3 linked regions of the Homo sapiens genome follow. The protein of the gene in region 1 purifies or fractionates together with the protein of each later gene. This does not show direct contact. Each region holds a gene or a part of one and is shown in the gene's direction. Other genes may lie near its edges.

The links.
Region 2: the proteins of FGL2 (region 1) and FUT8 purify together in Homo sapiens (affinity purification with mass spectrometry; 3 studies listed by BioGRID and IntAct, with this or other methods). This does not show direct contact.
Region 3: the proteins of FGL2 (region 1) and ITPR1 purify together in Homo sapiens (affinity purification with mass spectrometry; one large-scale study listed by BioGRID and IntAct). This does not show direct contact.

What each region holds. Positions count from the first base shown.
Region 1 is NC_000007.14:77,192,716-77,196,822, reverse strand, and holds the end of FGL2 (fibroleukin precursor), read left to right. Parts: coding exon 1-544; 3' UTR 545-3,454; downstream 3,455-4,107. UniProt on the Homo sapiens protein: May play a role in physiologic lymphocyte functions at mucosal sites.
Region 2 is NC_000014.9:65,415,617-65,419,272, forward strand, and holds part of FUT8 (alpha-(1,6)-fucosyltransferase), read left to right. Parts: intron 1-3,656. UniProt on the Homo sapiens protein: Catalyzes the addition of fucose in alpha 1-6 linkage to the first GlcNAc residue, next to the peptide chains in N-glycans.
Region 3 is NC_000003.12:4,681,821-4,685,476, forward strand, and holds part of ITPR1 (inositol 1,4,5-trisphosphate-gated calcium channel ITPR1), read left to right. Parts: intron 1-1,565; coding exon 1,566-1,731; intron 1,732-1,807; coding exon 1,808-1,978; intron 1,979-2,460; coding exon 2,461-2,526; intron 2,527-3,248; coding exon 3,249-3,386; intron 3,387-3,656. UniProt on the Homo sapiens protein: Inositol 1,4,5-trisphosphate-gated calcium channel that, upon inositol 1,4,5-trisphosphate binding, mediates calcium release from the endoplasmic reticulum (ER).

The sequences.
Region 1 (4,107 bases):
TGGGAGCACCAACTTCACCAGAACATGGCAAGACTACAAAGCAGGCTTTGGAAACCTCAGAAGGGAATTTTGGCTGGGGAACGATAAAATTCATCTTCTGACCAAGAGTAAGGAAATGATTCTGAGAATAGATCTTGAAGACTTTAATGGTGTCGAACTATATGCCTTGTATGATCAGTTTTATGTGGCTAATGAGTTTCTCAAATATCGTTTACACGTTGGTAACTATAATGGCACAGCTGGAGATGCATTACGTTTCAACAAACATTACAACCACGATCTGAAGTTTTTCACCACTCCAGATAAAGACAATGATCGATATCCTTCTGGGAACTGTGGGCTGTACTACAGTTCAGGCTGGTGGTTTGATGCATGTCTTTCTGCAAACTTAAATGGCAAATATTATCACCAAAAATACAGAGGTGTCCGTAATGGGATTTTCTGGGGTACCTGGCCTGGTGTAAGTGAGGCACACCCTGGTGGCTACAAGTCCTCCTTCAAAGAGGCTAAGATGATGATCAGACCCAAGCACTTTAAGCCATAAATCACTCTGTTCATTCCTCCAGGTATTCGTTATCTAATAGGGCAATTAATTCCTTCAGCACTTTAGAATATGCCTTGTTTCATATTTTTCATAGCTAAAAAATGATGTCTGACGGCTAGGTTCTTATGCTACACAGCATTTGAAATAAAGCTGAAAAACAATGCATTTTAAAGGAGTCCTTTGTTGTTATGCTGTTATCCAATGAACACTTGCAAGCAATTAGCAATATTGAGAATTATACATTAGATTTACAATTCTTTTAATTTCTATTGAAACTTTTTCTATTGCTTGTATTACTTGCTGTATTTAAAAAATAATTGTTGGCTGGGTGTGGTAGCTCACGCCTGTAATCCCAGCACTTTGGAATGTCAAGGCAGGCAGATCACTTGAGGTCAGGAGTTTGAGACCAGCCTGGCCAAACATGTGAAACGCTGTCTCTATTAAAAATACAAAAATTAGCCGGGCATGGTGGTACATGCCTGTAATCCTAGCTACTTGGGAGGCTGAGGCAGGAGAATCGCTTGAACCTGAGAGGAAGAGGTTGCAGTGAGCCAAGACTGAGCCACTGCACTCCAGCATGGGTGACAGAGAAAACTCTGTCTCAAACAAAAAAATAATAAAATTTATTCAGTAGGCTGGATTCTACACAAAGTAATCTGTATTTGGGCCATGATTTAAGCACATCTGAAGGTATATCACTCTTTTCAGGCTATAATTATTTGGGTAATCTTCATTCTGAGACAAACTTAATCTATATCATTTACTTTGCAACAGAACAACCCTACAGCATTTTGGTTCCCAGACTAAGGGAACTAATATCTATATAATTAAACTTGTTCATTTATCATTCATGAAATATAAAATACTTGTCATTTAAACCGTTTAAAAATGTGGTAGCATAATGTCACCCCAAAAAGCATTCAGAAAGCAATGTAACTGTGAAGACCAGGGTTTAAAGGTAATTCATTTATAGTTTATAACTCCTTAGATGTTTGATGTTGAAAACTGCTTTAACATGAAAATTATCTTCCTCTGCTCTGTGTGAACAATAGCTTTTAATTTAAGATTGCTCACTACTGTACTAGACTACTGGTAGGTTTTTTTGGGGGGGGTGGGTAGGGATATGTGGGTAATGAAGCATTTACTTACAGGCTATCATACTCTGAGGCCAATTTTATCTCCAAAGCAATAATATCATTAAGTGATTCACTTCATAGAAGGCTAAGTTTCTCTAGGACAGATAGAAAACATGAATTTTGAAATATATAGAACAGTAGTTAAAATACTATATATTTCAACCCTGGCTGGTAGATTGCTTATTTTACTATCAGAAACTAAAAGATAGATTTTTACCCAAACAGAAGTATCTGTAATTTTTATAATTCATCAATTCTGGAATGCTATATATAATATTTAAAAGACTTTTTAAATGTGTTTAATTTCATCATCGTAAAAAGGGATCATCTCAGAGAGAACAGCAGTATTCTGCGTATTTTTAAAAATGCTCTAGAGTAACATTTGAAGTAATTCACTGTAGTGTATGCCAGTCCTAGAAATAATTTTTTTAATTTCTGGTGTCTGTTTCTAATACACTAACCAAGTTTTCAAAATATATTTACAAAGATGCATCTTTACCCATTATTTTAAAATGATTAAGGAGGATAGTTGCTTCAGGTAACAAGCTAATTTTTCAAATATTAGGCCCTTACAGAACTATTTAGTCAAAAAGTAAGATATTCCTTTAAAATATATAACCCAAAGCTTTCAGTTAAACATGATATATCACAAATACTATTAAAATGTTAAAGAGAAATGCAAATAGCATTAAATGATGACCAAAATGTAAAATATTGTAGATTTCAAAAGCTGTGTCTCTATTAGGTGGGATACCAAATGTAAATGATGTAACTGACGTTGTTTTTTACTTTTTACTTTTTAAAAAAGACTAAAAACGTTTTGATATTATACAATGTATTTGTTTCAGATAAGGTCATTGTCATTTAGTATATATAATTAATATATGTACAAGTTTAAGTAAATTCCTGTGAGTAAAAATGGACTTATCACAAAACATAGTTCTAAAGAAAGGTATATGCTCATATACACGGTGTCCATTAATTTAATGGGAACTAGGTATAACTTCAGGAGAATTTGGCAAATAATTCATTAATCCATGTAAATATTCAAAAGCTTGTTCTATCCACATTATTTCAAGGGATCACTTTATTTTTCATTATACTTTCACAGCACTTTTCTAGTAAATTCTGTAACACAGAAATTCCATTTTGGAATCATTTCATGTTACCAATAATTCTAGACTTTTATAACATTTAACATGTTGATGGAAATAGATTACATCTGCTAGAACCTTTTGCCTTAACTATTCACCAATATATGCTAATATTCATAAATATGGATTGACTGTTTACAAACATTAGAATCTTGTCTTGGTTCCATTTTGATGGCTAATATTTGTTATCTTAATTAAGACTATTTCTGAGGTCATGATTACTTGAAAATATTGACTAAAACTGGGTCCTTAGAAATTCCAGGTGGAGCTGATTTACCTATGACTGAGGGGAAAAAAAAATCAAATTTTACTGATAATAGTAATGCTCCAAATGAATTAATGACACATCTGTTCAATAAATAAAGAGCTTAAATATACAAAACATAAGAAATCTGGGCAACAAAACTTGTGGTCTTTACTTTTGAATAGCTACCCAAGAAAAGGTTTTAAAGGTAAAAGTTATGAGTAATGTCATCACAATAAGCTCTTGTTTAAAATTCTTTTCTTTTATGTATAATTAGGTTTATGTTTCATGTCTTTTTAAAACCTTATAAAAGATTTAATTATCACATCTATTCTTCAATGTGGAAATATTAAATATTGTTGGTTGTAAAATAATATTTATGTACTTACTTGTGTCTGAAAAGTTGTAAAATGCTTACCTCAGCTATACAATATCTGTGACTCTGAAGACTTTAATGAGTACTATTTCATTAACAAGAAGTCAGAGGCAAATAGAGGAACACCATTATCTTACTTCCCTCTAGAATACTGTTGAAACATTTGAAATACAAAAGTTTCAGTTTCATTTTGTGGCATTCAACTTCCTCTCCTCTTTTTCCGTTATTAGTGTTGCTGCTCTGGTTAGCCCTCTTCATCTCCTTAGGACAACACAAACGCATCTGAATAGTCTGTACCTCTGGTTTCAGTCTATTCCAGTCCAACTTTCATCCCTACCAGGGGGATTGTTCAAAAGTACAATTCTGATCATGTTATTGTCCTGCTTAAAAAACTTTCAACAACGCCTTCTTTTCTTTTTTTTTATTATTTTATTTTATTTTTTTTAGAGACGGAGTCTCACTCTGTCGCCCAGGCTGGAGTGCAATGGCGAGATCTCGGCTCACTGCAACCTCTGCCTCCTGGGTTCACGCCATTCTCCTCTCTCAGCCTCCTGAGTAGCTGGGACTACAGACGCCTGCCACCTCGCCCAGCTAATTTTTGTATTTTTAGTAGAGACGGGGTTTCACCATGTTAGCCAGGATGGTCTCGATCT
Region 2 (3,656 bases), on another chromosome or scaffold:
TCTTATATGGGCGAAGGTATTAATTGTGTGGTAAGCTAGGTATTTATCAAAAGTAGATATAATTCCTTTTTTTTTTTTTTTTAAAGTAGAGATAATTCCAATAAAAAAATGGACCTTTTAGACATCTGGAGAACAATATCCCCAGGTCACTTAACCCTTATCTCCTGCAGTATAATGCAGTGCGTCCAGCTGATCTACCAAATTGAATGTGTGCCTTTGAATACGAAGCAGTTGTTTTGTGGCCTGTGGCATTTCATTTAGGTTTCTAAGCTGTAATAAATTAGTATGTTAATTTACTTCTTTCCATTCACATATTCTTTAAATCCAAGCCTAGAAACTGATAGTTATATGTATATTAAAATCATTGGAATATTGGTTTTTTTGCAGATAGTGTTTGGGCTGTTTATTATCCATAGCTCTTCATTATGTAAATAGAATCTCAATGCTGATAAAGTAAATAGATTCTTCCATTTCATTAATGGTTATTTTTGATTTATGATAAACTGCATTTAATAAATCTCTTGATTTAGTTAAATGGTGGATACATCATTTCATATTATAGCAAATTGATAAATATAAAAGAAAGTTTTACAATCATAAGAGTAAATATTTAAAAAAACTTGAATAAGTTACTTTACTAAACATAAAATTAAGATTTTTAAACAACTCTGAAACTAAAAGTATTACTATTATGGTACCTTTTTTTTTTTTTCCCCCAAAGAGATGTGATCTTGCTGTTTTGTCCAGGTTGGCCTTGAACTCCTGGGCTCAAGCAATCCTCCTACCTCAGTCTCTTGAGTAGCTGGGACTATAGGCATGTGCTACCACAGCCAGCTTTATTATAGTACTTTTGTACCCTGCATCAATGCTGCTTCTGTTGATACTTTTCAAAGGAGATATCAACTTCTGGTCTTCAACAGTAGTGTAGCATCCTCTTATTGATTCTCTGGCTCATATTTCACTACCGTATAGTATGGAGTTTCTTTCTTGGAGTTTGAATTGTTTTTACATTGCAGCTTGTTATAGTGAAACAATTAAACATATTTAAAAGTAAAAGATATTTACGACTGATTTTTAAAGAACCTGTAAAAAAATCTCCAACAGAAGAATATTATATGGGGATGTGTAGATTTAACATTTTATTTTCTTTAATTTTTTTTTTTTTTTTTTTGAGATTGGGGTTGGGGGTTGTCTCTCTATGTTGCCCAGGTTGGAGTGCAGTAGTGGCGTGATCACGGCTCACTGCAGCCTTGAACTCCCTGGTTCAAGCCATTCTCCCGCCTTAGCCTCTGGAGTATCTGGGATTATGGGTGCATGCCACCATGCGTGGCTAATTATTTTTTAATATTTGTAGAGATGAGACCTTGGTATGTTGCCCAGGTTTGTCTTGAACTCCTGGGGTCAAGTGGTCCTCACACCTTGGCCTCCTAAAATGCTGGGATTACAGGCGTGAGTCACTGTACCCGGCTCCTTTATTTTATTAAAAAGATTTTTGTTTGTTTGTTTGTTTCTAAGTTTAAAAGAGACAGGGTCTTGCCATGTTGCCCAGGCTGGTCTTGAACTCCTGACCTCAAGTGATCATCCCACCTTGGCCTCCCACAGGCGTGAGCTACCATGCTTGGTTGTAAGATTTTTAAAAAATGGATTAGTTTCAAATCTCAACTTCTCTTTCTTTCAACATTCTAATCTCCTGGCATTTTTTTCCTTTCCCCAGCTACCCCCCATCATCCAACAGTCTTCCATTTGGAATAATGGGAAATCAAACCAATAAAGTTAATCTTACCTCCCACCAGGCAAAGGTTTTTCTTAATCTCTACAATATTCTGAACATAAAACCCATATAAACTTTATATGATACTACACATTTTCCTTTTAACGGAGGAAGAGCAAATGGGACCTATGGAATTATGCCGTATTTGTCAATATAAGGGTTACTTTTGTACTCTTACTGAAAGCAGAGTTATAGGGCTAATTTCATTTAAATTTTCTTACCCATCTACTTTAAAAAAATACCTCTTTGTGGTAGTCTTTTTTTTGGTCAGAAAATGACAATGTGAAGGAGAAATACGTTTTGAATTTATAAATCTTCTTTTAATTAACAAATTATACCAATATAAGGGTAGTGTTAATGTGGTTCAAATTTGCCTTTGCTATTCTGCCTTTTCTTCTATAGTGATTGTATAGTTATACTATAACTTCTTCCTCGAAGCACTGGAATAAAAGAAAAACTTTTAAAGATCACTACGAAATGCTCACTGTATTTGTTGTATTTTATAACTTGGGTTTTTAAAATTTATTTTTCCATAAACTGAATAAATATGAAAACGAACTTGAAAGATCTTGTCACAGCCTTGATGACTGGTCAGTATAAAGTTCACATTATAAAATAATAAAACATTGATAATAATCTTAGATGAAAATGGAAAATTAAGCTAATGTTTATTTTAGAACCTGAGTAATGAGTTTATATCATGTAGCAATGAGGCACATGAAGACGGTTAGAATTAGTTTTTCTAATGAATAAACTTCATGATATAAACTTGAAAGTGCATAAATGCTATAACTTTCTGATTGTAAACTTGAACAAAAGTAAAATGAAAATGGGAGAGTCCTCTTAATTACCTTTAACGTATAACTAAAATGAACCTGTGTATCTGTCTAAGTCTTATTTGATCAAGACTTTCAATGGACAATGAATGAGTTTTAAGTTTTTATCAATGTTGTGACTGATTTTTCTATAATATCCCTTAAATGAGATATCAAATTCTAATAATATCTAGAACCAGATTAAATTTGGTTAGAGTATAAACAATATTTACAAACCATCAAAACTATAATAAAAGCATTGTAATGTTATTTAATGACTTAAGCCAACATTCCATAAGCTAATCTAAGCATTTTTACAATTAATACAATTGATAGTAATATCTTAATTAGTGGTAAAGTGGACAGATATAATTTATAGATTCTGTATTGTCTGGGACCTTGGGGCAGTCAGTGAAGAGAGGGAGATAGAGAGAGGAGCATACTGGTTGATGAGCTTGCCTTATTTGGAGATGAAGGAGATTTATTCAGTTTTTCTCTTTCCCTCTACTTACTTCTCCTTGTTTGTCATCCTCTTCTAGCAATGGTAAGAAATGCGGGAATTGACCATCTTTACAGTATACTTTTTTCCTTAGAGTTCATAGAACATTTCCAGGTAAAACATTAGCTTTTATGTTATAATAGGTTTATTATAATGATATCATTTCCTTTTGAGGTGGTAGGCAAGAGACTAGAAGAACTTCATTTGTATAGCATTTAATATTATTTATTAAAAATGATTTTATAGGCCGGGCGCGGTGGCTCATGCCTGTAATCCCAGCACTTTGGGAGGCCGAGGCAGGTGGATCACCTGAGGTCAGGAGTTGGAGACCAGCCTGACCAACATGGAGAAACCTCATCTTTACTAAAAATACAAAATTAGTCGGGCATGGTGGCACATGCCTGTAATCGTAGCTACTTGGGAGGCTGAGGCAGGAGAATCACTTGAACCCGGGAGGCTGAGGCAGGAGAATCACTTGAACCCAGGAGGCGGAGGTTGCAGTGAGCCGAGATCTTGCCATTGCACTCCAGCCTGGACAACAAGAGTGAAACTCTGTCTCAAAAAACAAAAC
Region 3 (3,656 bases), on another chromosome or scaffold:
TACAATTTTATCCCTGAGCTCCTTACAGGCTATGCAACAAAGAAAGCAAAATCTGGTCTTTCATTGTTCCTAATATTAATGTATGAACCCCTTTAAAAAAAAACCGCACTGGTCAATTTTGACTTAAGACATTATTATAATTATGGAACTCTTATACCTCCAAGTATAAAATTTGGTATAAACACCATATGCACATAGTTCTTATAATTAGCACACTTGGTTTGATTATTGCTTTATAACATATTACTCCAAAAAACTTAAGGATTCAAACCACCACCATTTTATTAATACTTCTTACAGTCCTGTGGCTTGATTAAGCTGGATGGTTCTTCTGCTGGTGGTCACTGTTGGGTCTGTCATACTGTAGTGAGGTGGTAACTGGGGCTGGCACCTCCAAGTTGGATTATTCACATTTCTGGCACTATAGCAGAGATGCCTGCAAGGCCAGAACTTCTTTCTCTCTCTGTCCATGTGGATAGCTTGGGCTTCTTTACAGCACGGTGGCTGACTCAAAAAGCAAATGTTCTAAGAGGACAAGCCAACAGTATGCAAGTGCTAATTGGGCCTCTGCTTGCATTGCATCTCCTAATATCTTATTGTTCAAGCAAATCCCATGGCCAAGCTCATTGTCAGTGTGGGAGGGGACTACATAAGGGTTTGAACACTCTGTTGGGGCCCACCAGTGTTAATAGTCTACCTCAATGCTTAATATAAAACCTGTGAAATTTGAATTAGCAACATTATGTACTATGATGGAAGATGTTTTTCTGAAACTTAAACATGGTATTGTGAGTTTAGCATAATACAGGTTCCATGTGCTGTGTGATCACTCAGCTCTCCCGCCATTTTCCTCATAGTGAACAGCATTGAAACCTTCACACCTTTTTGGAATACATAGCATGAATACAGTATTTATAAGTCTTCTCTGTGCTTTTCTTATTAGCCAGCAACCAGGAAGTTTCCACCATTTGTCATTCATTTGACTCTAAACCCAATATAGGTGCAGACCCAATAATTGACTAGCAGTGCTCAGTTATGGAGTAGTCTGCCATTTGATCTAGGATATGCTTATTAATATTTAAATATAGTCAGGCATGGTAGTGCATTCCTATAGTCCCAGCTACTCAGTATGCTAAGGCAGGAGGATCATTTGAGCATAGGAGTTTGAATTCAGCCTGGGCAACATAGCAAGACCTCATCTCTAAAAACTAAATACATAAACTAATAACTTAGGAGAAACACATCCTCTTGCAGTTCTCAGACCACAGACGAAGCCCAGCAGAAGAACACCCTATGTAGATGTTGAGAATCTAATGCTAGTCTTGTCACTTTGGCTTAAAATTTGACTTATCTTTTAATATGACATCTTCCTTGTCCCCTCACCTCATAATATAGTTGAAGATGAAGCAAGGCTGTATTGTTAAAGGAGCTAATGAAAAGTGAAATTGCATGTCTGGAGATCACAGTGCTAGAAATGCAACTAGGTTAGGTGCATCTGGGCCCAAGGGGCGTGAGAGGAGGCATTTGTCATTCATTTGGCCTTTCCCCACCTTGTGCTCCTTTAGTGAGGAGAACACCCCACTGGACTTGGATGACCACGGCGGCAGAACCTTTCTCCGTGTCCTGCTCCACTTGACGATGCATGACTACCCACCCCTGGTGTCAGGGGCCCTGCAGCTCCTCTTCCGGCACTTCAGCCAGAGGCAGGAGGTGCTCCAGGCCTTCAAACAGGTAGCTCAGGTCACCCACGTGTGTGTTGTCTGTCCAAGAAGCTGTTGTGTGCACCTAACGGATTGCGTTCATTAAGGTTCAACTGCTGGTTACCAGCCAAGATGTGGACAACTACAAACAGATCAAACAAGACTTGGATCAACTGAGGTCCATCGTGGAAAAGTCAGAGCTTTGGGTGTACAAAGGGCAGGGCCCCGATGAGACTATGGATGGTGCATCTGGAGAAAATGAACATAAGAAAACGGAGGTGAGTGAAACACAAGTTATGCTGCCAAAGTGGATGGATGGGCTTCTCGAAACTAGGGAGCATCCTCTTCTGGTTTTAGGTATAAATGTGATAGGATTTATTTTCAAGAGATCTGCTTGTTAAGTCACCAAGATCACAAGCTGTTTGCCTAGGAAATAAGCTACGAATCAAAGTTTAGCTATGTCTCCTGTGCAGCCTTGGACCATGTAGAAGAGACTGCGATATTGAGTGAATTAGCACCAGGTTTCCCTTACAGACCCACTTGGGAATTGACCTGTTCTCTAGGCATGGCCCAGCCCACTACTATCCCTTCCCAAGGAAACCCATAGCAAGTAGGTAGATGACTGGGGCATAAGCCCAGCATGACTATTGTAAAACAGTATAGAACTCCCTTTCTTTCCTAAAGGTCGATGCTAACTGTAAAAAACTGACAGTAGCCCAAGAGTTGTACAGATCACACTTGTGTTCACTTTGGTTTCTAGGAGGGAAATAACAAGCCACAAAAGCATGAAAGCACCAGCAGCTACAACTACAGAGTGGTCAAAGAGGTAAGCTCCTCCCCCACCACCATTTTTCCTTTCTTTATGAATTCTCTAAGGAGCTTTAGTTTGTGATAGTCAAGTTGAAGGTACACACATTTGAGCTTTTTTCTTCATGTGGTTTAACAGGGAGAAAGTAGAGCTCAGAGGTTAAGCTCATGGGTTTTGGCATCAGATCTGGGCTCCACACCCAGCTCTTCTACTTATTATTTTTGTCCTCAGCTTCCTCACCTTTTGTAGGTGCAACCTTTCGTAGGCACCGCATATTTCTGAAGCTTTACAATTGAAGGAAGGACTAATTGAGAATACTGTCAGGGAGTCATCTAAGTGCCTGGTACACAGTGTCCCCACTGAGAGCTGTAGTTTTTTAGAAACCTTTGCGTACGCTGGTTCAAAGTTGGGAGGCTGGGAGCTTTGTGTGTTTTACCCCAGAGCAAACTCTTCCCAGGGTCTCGGCAATGATGCCAGGTCATTCCATTTTAAGCGATATCTCTGAAACTGTCCCACTTGTTGTTGAAGCCATAATCCCCTGCTTATTCTGGAAGACGTGACCTTAGTCTTATGGATTTGGCTTGATGGAGTCAACAGAAATGCCACATACTGAAGGAATTTTGTTTTACGTTTTTAATGCATTATAATCCCCTTTGCCTCCCTGCCCGCCACCACCCTCTGCAATCTTTTTCCAGCTATAGTTCCTAGTTTTCTGAGACTGATTTCTTTCATTCTACTAGATTTTGATTCGGCTTAGCAAACTCTGTGTTCAAGAGAGTGCCTCAGTGAGAAAGAGCAGGAAGCAGCAACAGCGTCTGCTCCGGAACATGGGCGCGCACGCCGTGGTGCTGGAGCTGCTGCAGATTCCCTATGAGAAGGTGAGCGGTGCCTCATGCACAGCAGCTGCTCTCAGGATGGGGCGGATCCCTGGGTTTCCCCAAACTCTTCACATCTGGATATTGTTAGTGAAGAAATGCATCCAGTGTGACTATTGTGACTACAAAGCAATTTCAGGTATTGATATGAAACAGAGCATCTGAAAAATAAAGTAAAATCACCCGTGAATAATCCTCATCCCCAGTTTTAAGATTCTGTAAAGAAAGAGAGTCCATTTATTCTCCATACTCCCAAGACATATTGGATAGAGA